Regions from separate parts of the Homo sapiens genome. Here all the other regions are reported to be linked to region 1. Evidence: microRNA targets listed by miRTarBase, many of them from high-throughput screens and not tested one by one. Region 1 holds a microRNA gene; each other region holds the end of a gene's coding sequence.

Region 1 (3,255 bases):
GTGATATGTTGTTGAAAGTTGATGGCCTCTAGTTGTCTTGGGAACTTAAGCTTAGATACAGGGAGAACTATATTGGTTTTCTCACCCCAGTTAATATAGCCAGAGCTAGTTTTCCATCGCCAGTAGGGAGGAGTGTTTGGACACTTTCAGACAGTTGGGTTGGAGCTAAGATAAGGCAGAAGGAGATAATTTTTTTATGAGTCCTGGATAAATATTGGTGGATGTTTTGTTTAGGGTAAAAGCTAAGTTGCTGAAACAATGGGAACCTTTTAGTACAATGACTTAAATAAGATTAATATTTATGTATCTCTTTTGCTACAGACACAGTAATAGACGAGTTCTTCTCCTTAATGTCAGTTGCATCAGTTGTCCTTGTCTACATGGTCACTAGTACCATGATCATGTTCCAACCCATAGGAATGGGGTAAGGGGAATAGAGAGTGTCACCAAAGATTGAAGTCCAAAGATTTGTCACACACTACTTACAGTCATATATCAAGGGCTGAAACTCGCCATACCTAGCTGCATGGAATGTACTTTCTTAGATTTGTGGCCACACATGCTGCTAAACAACTTTTGGTGTTCGATTATTAAAATAAAGAGTTTCAGGGGACCATTAAGAGAATATCTGTAGCAAGCAGGAGCAGAACTAGAGCAGAGCTCCACAAAGCTTAACACAGTTTGTTTTCTCCTATTCCTCTAGCATTGACTGACTTTTGGGTTTTATCCATTTATTTGTTTACAATTTTAATTTACTTACTTGTTTTATTTGTAATGTGTGTTATTTGTGGTTGAACACTTTGTATTTATAATTCACTAAAAGGTAATCAAAATTTAAAATTAAATGTTTTACTTTTGTATGACCATTAATAGTTTTATTGGGTTTTAGAGCAGTGCCATAAAATTTCTAAAAAAAAAAAAAATAACAGGCGAGTTACTGCTGATCTCGCTCTCTGAATGCACTAGCAAAGAAAGTGTGTTTCACTCTGATAAGCCTCTGTGGACCAAAAATTTCTATTTCAAAGGAGAACGAAATGCCAACTAGTGGCTGCAGGTGGGGGATAAGTGTGGAATATGTGAAACAAATGTTTACAGTTTTTTTAATTATTCAAAAACAGTTGTGTGATAACTCTGCAGGGGGTCATGCTAGGACAGGCATCTATGAAGCACAATAAAGGCAACTAGACAAATCAAAGCATAGGAAGGACTGAGCTGAAAATAATGGAGATATTCATTCCTTTATAAATAATGTGTCCAATAATACCTTAATACTGCATAAAAGCTAGGCATGGTGGTGTGTGCCTGTAGTCCCAGCTACTGTGGAGGCTGAGGTAGGAGGATCACCTGAGCCAGGAAGTCAAGGCTGCAGTGAGCCATGATCACACCACTGCACTGCAGCCTGGAGGACAGAGTGAGACCCTGTCTCAAAAAACAAACAAACCAACTAACTAACTACTTAAAAAATAACCTGACTTTAAAACAGCAAAAATCCCTTGCTTTTCTACATTCGTTTTTTCTAGATTAGGTTTGTGAATAAGGAGCAGAAGAATAAAAATATCTCTGCCTCCAGGGGGTTACTGCCCCATTGTGGATATAAGAAGGCCATGGGATGTTCAGTGGCCTCTACTAGGATATGGCTTACATTAAATAGGACTCAGATAAGAAAGGTTCCTTGGGAGAGGTCAAAAGCGAAGATTCTGGGGGGAGATGGGAAAGAGTGAGGCTGCCGAAGTAAAGGAATGGGAGAATTACTTTAGATACACAGTGTCATTTATCCTTTACACAAATCTGAAAGTTGACTTCTTGGAATTTCTCTGGATCCCCATTCTGTTGCTGCTCAAATATTCAGTACTTTCCTGCCTTCTTGGCCTTGTCTAAGTTGTTGGTTCTGAACTGTTGCTTTGACCTTAGCATTTAGCATCAGTATTTTAAAAGTATTTCTTTTGTAGAAGGCTTCATTAGTTCCAGGCTTAACTTTGGCATTACCTGCAACTGAGCTATCACTGGGCCTGGCCCACTCACACGCCTGACCTTTATTTTCTGCCCAGCTTCACCTTAGATTTTCTAAGGCTGTCTTTCAATCTCTTTTTATTAACTGTTGTGTTCCACGTTTATTTAGCAGCACAAATGGTTATACACTCATTTCCATTGTGCAGAACAGACCTGAAAATGACACAGGAAGTCAAAATAGAAAGATCATTAGGAACTTAAGGTAAGGAATCAGGGTGGAGTGTAGTTCTGAGCAGAGCCTTAAAGGATGAGGTATGTTCAAGACTGAATGACACCTTTGTGATGCTATGGAGTGAAAGCAGTGGAACATGCTGGTGACCGACGGAAACAGTGCTGGGTGAGGAGGAAGGGTTTGGCAGAATGTGCCGAGTTGCCCTAGGTCTGAACCCTGGTTCTTGTCTCCGGATACCTGTGTGAATTTCCTCATTCCAATTTTGGATACCTCCCAGGATGACAGCTTTTCAGCTTCCTTGTTGACAGATTTTCAGGGTCTGTCTTTAGAATGATTAGCAGCTTTTAATATGTAGCCCCAAGTCTATTCTTCCATAGCCTGCACCCATCTTTTGCTCATAAAATATTTGGTATTGACTCTGTATTCCTTTGAGTTTCATTTTTGTTCAGTCTTAAGTAGGAATTACTTGGGTTCAAAGGGTGGGGAAGAAGACCTTCTTTCAGTAGAGAAGTCAAAGACAATCCAATACAGTATTCCCTCCTTATCCAAGAAGGGATATGTTCCAAGACCCCCAGTAAATGTCTAAAACTGAGGATAGTATCAAACCCTCTATATACTATGATTTTTTCCTATACACACATACCCCATGATAAAGTTTAATTTATAATTAGTCAGAGTAAGAGATTAACAATAACTAGTAATATAATAGAACAATTATAACAATATGCCAGCATCACTACTCTTGTGGGTTGGGGCCACTATTAAGTAAAATAAGGGTTACTTGAACACAGGCACTGCAATAGTGTGATAGTTGATTTGATAACAAAGATGGCTACTAAGTGACTAAGGGGCAAGTAGTATATACAGCATGGATACACTGGAGAAAGGATGATTCACATCCCGGGTGAGACAGAGTGGGATGGCACAGGATTTAATCATGCTACTCAGAATGGCACACAATTTAAAACTTGGGAATCATTTATTTCTGGAATTTTCCGTTTAATATTTTCGGACTGTGGTTGACCACAGGTAACTGAAACCATGGAAACTGAAACCACAGATAAGGGGGGACT
Region 2 (3,255 bases), not on the chromosome of region 1:
TTTTCTCTCATAACTCAGCATTAATTGCTCATTACACAGTTGTATCTAGGTATGGAAGTTAAGACAGTTTGTTTTATGATAGAAGATGTCCTGTCATAAATAGTTTTGGTCATCCAGTTTTATCAGCTAGAAGATCTGATTTATATGGATGGGAATTACCTAGCATGTTCATTAAAGCTAACTGTTGTCAGTTCCCCTCTATTCTTAAAAATCAGCATTCAAAGGGTTAAGATCAAATGAGTGAGCTGCTTTTTAAATAAAATACAGGCATGAAATGGAATTGTGAAGGCCTTATCCATATCAATTTTATTTTACTTTTTCTCCTGCCTATTCTTTGGTTCTGCTTACTAAATTTCCAGTTTTATTTTTTGCTTGTTTTATCTTAAGGGAGATCTTTGATGAGCTGCTGGAAACAGAAAAGAACTCTCAGTCACTTAGCACGGAAGTGGGGAAGACTACCCGTCAGGCCTTGTGAGGAACAAACTCCTGGGTTGGCAGCATGCACTGCATATTTGTTACTGCTGCCCACCTCACCTTTCCTCTGCTGAAGGAGAATTTGGAATTCTACTTGATGCGGGAGCAACAAACAGCTCAGGGCCAAACCAAAAGACAAAAATTGGAGTAACGTAGAATGCTCCATGCTATTTTATGGAAACTTTGGTCTCACATCCGTAGCTGATTATCCTCTTTTTCTCCTATGAGTGGCACTTCTTTTGTCTTAGGAATACATGTTGTAAATATATATCTGTGTATGTGTGTATACACACACACAGACACACACACACACACACGGGATGAATGGAGCCTTAAAGAGTTAGGATGAGCCACCAGAATATGCCTGCTCAAAATTAATAGCACAGCAGTTTGGAGAAGAAATGAAGGTGTCAAAGAGTCCATTCACCTGAGAAATGTGTGAAGACATACTTATCAGTTGGCTTTTAGCTTTTATGTTCCTTGAGTAGTTTCACTCAAGTCTGTAACCTTTTGTGTTTCCTTATTAGTAAAATTCACTGGAAAGCCAGCTCTTCATGTTACACTAATGACAGTTTGTTCTCTTTGCAAGAGAGGGGCATTACTGTCACCTGACTTGAGGAGCTGTTTTGTTGTTGTTGTTGTCTGCAAATTTCATGAATTTGTGATGTCTTTGCTGTTTACATGCAGTCCCAAGAAATGGATTGTTGGTGCTTTGGAATATGTTACAGTCCCACATTTGATATTTCTTATATACTTTGTTTTCTCTAAGGAGATTTCTTCACACAGTATGTTCATCATATATCATCATCATTATTATGGTGGTAAAGATAGAATCTTTTTTCTTTTTTGTCATTCTGCCATGGAGCAGCATTACCCTAATGGATTGCAACCAAAACTTTAAACAAGTAGAAAGATAATATTTCTCCAATTGGGACTCCCCAGCAGGAATACTTAGGGATAAGGAAGAATGCTAGCATCTCTGTCTCTCAAACATAGGGAGGATAAGAAGAGTGTTCTTCTGGTAAAGCTAAAATTCTGGACCACTGAAGCTAAAAGCCCTATTGCAAGTATGAAATTAAGTACTTGAGCTGTAGGACAAACCTTGGGCATTTAACCATTTACTGTCTGGCTTTGCCCTTAAAATAGGGTTGCAATTAAAATGTGATTGGCTTAGGTAATCCCAAAAACTAACAAATAACAAAGGTGCATAATTTATTTATCTACTTTTTAGGTGCTCTGAGTTGAGGCAAAGTAGAGCGGCAACATTAAGTGCTATGCTAGTCACTTAGCTGACGTAACCAGCTTGGTTAAGCAGCTTATGAAACCATATAAAGAATTCTTTTGAGGATGGAATTCTGTCCACAAAATAATTTTGTGAGCCCAGATATCATTAGGATCACACAGAGTTAAATATAGAAAAATGAAACCATCATTATATTCTTTCGTGTTTTTTCTTTTATTATAAACAAGGGGATTATTCTTTAGTTCTCAGAGGTAGGGACAAAACCACATCAGGTTTTCAGAAGGAAAAAACATTTAAAAACCCACCATCACATGAGAGAATCACTTGAACCCAGGAGGCAGAGGTTGCAGTGAGCTGAGATCGCATCATTGCACTGCAGTCTGAGTGACAGAGTGAGACTCCATCTCATTAAAAAAAACGAAAACAAAAACAAAAAAAACACAAACCATCATCACAGAAGATGCAACATCTTTTCTGAAAGATTGCCTTAAGAGAGCTCCAGTCCTACTCTTGGAACTTGGATGTATTCTAATGTAGTAAACTATTCTAAGTTTTCATTCTTTGAATTATAAATGGCCTCAGCAGTTTTGCTCAACTACTGATAAATGCTTTGCCTCCTACCATCTACCTATATACCTTATTGTAATGAATGTTCCAAAATGGTAGAGTGGTAGAAAACGCCAGAGTAGTTTAGAGCAGAGGAAAATATTTGTTTTAAAACTAGCTTTAAAGTTTTGTTTCATTTCTACCAGGAGCCTCTTTGGTTTGGTTTGATTTTGCTTGGAAATAATTGGTTTTCTTATAAATGAGTGAAGCGGTGATAAAATTCTTTGGCTAGTTATTAATTCTTTTACGTGTCTTTGCATTTGAGAGGCACTGTTAAAAATTATTGGGAAAGATTTAAAGTGCAGGCTGCAATTAAAACATGGAGAAAAGTAGAAATAATGCCATAAGTCTAGATTGCCTCATGAAGCAGCCTCATTTGAATTGCTTTCATAGCTTTCATGTGTGTATGGTTTAGAAGTACACTTACCTCAGAAACCTGATTTGATCTTCATGTCTTGGGCAGGAGTTGTTGAAAATAGGTTATTGGAATATATAAGTTATCTCACTGCTCATGTACTTGCATGTTTGGGACTCAAATTTTACTTGATGTCTGTCCATTCTTGTGGCCCTATCAGCCTTCTCCTTCCTTTACTCCTTTAATCTACTTCTTTGACTACCAGTGGAGATTTCAGCTGGACTATGTTGATGGGGTTTGTTGTTGTTTTTGAGCTGGCTGTATATATTTTAAAATTATAAATAGATAATATATTATTTTTTGCACATTGTGATCAGTTTGCCCAGAATTGGGGATGGGGCAGTTAGCATGTTGGGGCCAGGAAGGGACAAGTTAGATAAGGACTGAGTGCTTCCGTTGCAGGCAGTTTGCACAATACCTAATTAACCTTCCTATTGAAAATACCAAATGTGTGGTTACATTACTTTAAATGACATTGAATTGGAACTTGATGGCAATTAGTTCTAGATACAACCTT
Region 3 (3,255 bases), not on the chromosome of region 1:
TTCCTGTCAGGCTGGCCCTTGCCCTTTCACCCCTCCCTCTTGTCAGCGAATGCCACACTGCTCCCCGTGGCCCCATCCCTCCCTGTTCACAGCTGTGACCCTCACACATGACCCCTCCACTTCGGCGTGCCCCTCCTCACCTCGCCTGCTAAGGGTGGGCTCTTGGACTCGCTGCTATAGGACAGAGGGTCCTGCGTAGCCCACATCCTGGGCACCCAGCTGCCCTCAGGGGCCTGGCCTGTCTGGCCACTGCCGTGTCTGTGGTGGCCCCAGGAGGCTGTCCTCTGCCCAGGGCTCTTAAGACAGAGCATACCCCCTGACCCCGCAGCTGCCTTCTCCCTGAGGTGGCCCTGGCTGGGGCGTCTCCCTGACCCTGTCTCTGTAGCTGGTGGCCGGGCGGCCTGAGATGCTGAGTCCTGCCCGGAAGGCCCTCCGGCTCCCCAGCTGGCCCAGCCTGGGCAGGGGCCTCCTGAGCCCGTCATTGTTCTGGCCCTGCAGGTGATCTTCCAGCTCCGCGCCAAGCAGTGTGTGGCCTGCCGGGAGCGGGCCCACGGTGCTGTCCTGCGGCCCTGTCAGCACCACATCCTCTGTGAGCCGTGTGCGGCCACCGCACCTGAGTGCCCCTACTGCAAGGGCCAGCCCCTGCAGTGGTGACCTCAGCGGGGACAGCCACCTCCTGCTGGGCACCCTGGCTCCAGCGCTCCTCCTGACCACGGACATGTCGTCACTCGCTTCTGGTGCCACCGACGTGAGGACCGAGGCTGGGAGCCCTTCCTGTTACACGTTATCATGAGGCTGGGAGCCCCGCCTGCGCTTGGCCTGACAGCCTTTCCTGTCACACGTTGTCACCTATCTAGTCCTACCGACGGTTTCAAGGTATTTTCCTCAAAAACCTTAAATGCAAACCCACAGAACCCGCCTGCCTGTCCCTGAGGGGCCTGGTGCCTCCGGGATCCACGCGGCGCTGTGATCACAGCAGTTTGTGGTCCTGACACTACTGTGACTAGGCCACTGGGAGCTGGGGTCTTTCAAAGCACTTTGTAAACCGAGGAATTTAGTTAGAGGTTATAAATTGCTCTAAGCTGCTTTCTGTTTTTTTTTAATATGCGATAATATGAAGCTTTATATGTGTACTGTGAACTTAAATATTTCATATCAGTTTATTGTCAATTCATAGTATGCTAAATATATTAGATTTCATATTCTGAAACTAGTACTTATGAAATGAGTGTTTATCTAGTAGTAAGACCTAGGATTTTTACATTTTCCAATTAAGTGCAAATAGTATTTATAAGCAGAGTGATTATGGATTGAGATGTTTTTAACTTGATGGAAGGAGCTAGTTTTCCTGAGCCTGTGTGTGCACCAGGCACTGGGGCTGATGTTCCAGCCTCGTGGCGTGGGAGCAGGAGAGCTCCGTCCTGCATTTCTGTGGTCCGTGGCCGCTGTTTCTGTGCGCCTGCGCCTCGGAGAGCAAGTGAAGGAGCATCATGGGTTTTGTTTTCTCCCTTAACCCTCTGAAAGACAGTTTGATACTAACAAAAAACGCAGCAGAGGGGATCCGACGTCAGAGCTTTTAGAATTACTTTTTTAAGCAGCTGTCTTCTGGCTGGGTGCGGTGGCTCATGCCTGTGATCCCAGCACTTTGGGAGGCGGGTGGATCACCTAAGGTCAGGAGTTCAAGACCAGCCTGGCCAACATGGTGCAACCCCGTCTTAGTAAAAATACAAAAATTGGCCTGGCGTGAGAGCGGGCACCTGTAGTCCCAGCTACTCGGGAGGCTGAGGCAGGAGAATCGCTTGAACCTGGGAGGCAGAGGTTGCAGTGAGCCGAGATCGCGCCACCGCACTCCAGCCCGGGTGACAGAGCGAGACTCTGGCTCAAAAAAAAAAAAAAAAAGCTGTTTTCTGATTACTCAGAGCTGTCCTAGGCAATGGTGCTTTGTAGCTCCTTGGAGATGTCGCTGGGCGTCCTGGCAGGGGTCAGGCAGTGAACTGGGAGAGTGGTTGCCTCCCCAGCACCCGTGACCACCCTGGTCCTGCTCGTGTGGGAGATGCTCGGGCCGTGTGTGCGCCAGGGTCCGGGGTGCCGGGTGTATGTGGCAGTCACCTGACCCGCGCTGCCAGTTATCATCGGAGCTCATCCATGTGGCCAGTGAGGTCACAGGAGAGGACCCGGCCACAGCCTCTCAGTGGCCTGGAGCACACGGGGGAAGCGACCCCCCCCAGGTCCCGGCTCTGCTGTGGTCCCCTGTCCCGTCTGCCCCTGGAGCGACAGTGTGGTTTCGGCCGCAGCAGAAACGTGACTGAGAACGCATCCCCGCGATGACCTGACCCTTCTGCTCAGGGCTGGGACTGTCCCTAGGAGTTGAGCAGGAACAGGCATCTGTGGTTTACGGCGACCTGGCTCTCCGCGGGCCACGTGGGTGGTGAGGGCACACGAGTGGGAAGCGGCACCGACGTGTTTCTCCCCGACCGTGGCTTTGCCAAAGACTTTTAATAGCATTTTTTAAGTGCAAAACGTCTAGGTAAAAATCTTTATCATCAGTGACCAAATTAGAATGTATTTAATATAGTAGGTGGTTTAAGAACTGTTTTAACGTAAGACAAACTGATAGCAACATTCTGTTGTTTTAAAGGAAGTGGGTCCGTGACATTCTGCAGCTAGTCCACTACTCCAAGGTAACTATCGACTTGGTTTCAGTGAATCTATTTTGTTTTTAACTACAGTGATTTATTAGCTCAGTATCTAGAAATTACGTATATTTTGTGCTACTGTCATCGATGTGTAAACTCTGTTTTTATTTGTATTTATGCACTTGGTTCCCATTTGGAGCCTCTGGTCTTTTCTGGGATAAGTGGTGTCTGCCGAGACATCTCCCGGTTGTCAGTGGTCAGGAGCAGCTGAGCTCTAGTCTGCCAGCTGCTCTGCTCTTTCTGGGAAGGAGGTGGCGCCCGCCCCTCAGGGTGTCTCCAGGGCTCAGCTTCCGGGGTGGTAGAGCTGGGGAGCCCCAGGGGTGGGGGGACAGCTGGGAGATGGAGGTGGCACCTGCTCCCCTAGATCAGTACTGGCTCTGAGGACAGGTGAGCAGTGGGAAGACCAAAGAATGGCTGGCAGCGCTGCCAGGGTTGGAAATGGGGGCAAGATCCTGGGGCTGTGTGCCCTGGGGCCTCCCTCACCTGTCTTGGTGGCCATGGCCTCAGGGATGGCTCCTAGGTGGCTGAGGCACAGCAGTGGCTGGAAGGTGCCCCGTGG

The links. The annotated mature microRNA hsa-miR-4280 reads GAGUGUAGUUCUGAGCAGAGC and lies in region 1 at 2,229-2,249, shown strand. An mRNA with a match to its seed (bases 2 to 7 or 8) in the 3' UTR can be bound and repressed. Matches are read on the target gene's strand: a 7mer-m8 pairs with bases 2 to 8, a 7mer-A1 pairs with bases 2 to 7 and ends in A, and an 8mer does both.
Region 2: the mRNA of USP37 is a reported target of hsa-miR-4280. Seed matches in the 3' UTR shown: 7mer-A1 at 1,033-1,039.
Region 3: miRTarBase lists UNKL as a target of hsa-miR-4280. The part of its 3' UTR that is shown has no 7-base or 8-base seed match.

What each region holds. Positions count from the first base shown.
Region 1 is chr5:87,113,918-87,117,172 of GRCh38, reverse strand. It overlaps MIR4280 (microRNA 4280), which reads left to right and starts at 2,219; the gene lies at 2,219-2,294. The region is part of intron 1 of MIR4280HG (MIR4280 host gene); the gene reads left to right.
Region 2 is chr2:218,452,150-218,455,404 of GRCh38, reverse strand. USP37 (ubiquitin specific peptidase 37) reads left to right here. Exons shown (of 26, transcript NM_020935.3): 26 at 388-3,255. The coding sequence ends at 475. It overlaps VIL1 (villin 1), which reads right to left. Exons shown (of 20, transcript NM_007127.3): 20 at 2,110-3,255. Among named protein-coding and RNA genes, the nearest start is that of VIL1, 35 kb to the right of the region's middle.
Region 3 is chr16:1,363,639-1,366,893 of GRCh38, reverse strand. It overlaps UNKL (unk like zinc finger), which reads left to right. Exons shown (of 15, transcript NM_001372107.1): 15 at 499-3,255. The coding sequence ends at 654. It overlaps GNPTG (N-acetylglucosamine-1-phosphate transferase subunit gamma), which reads right to left. Exons shown (of 11, transcript NM_032520.5): 11 at 2,781-3,255. Among named protein-coding and RNA genes, the nearest start is that of GNPTG, 13 kb to the right of the region's middle.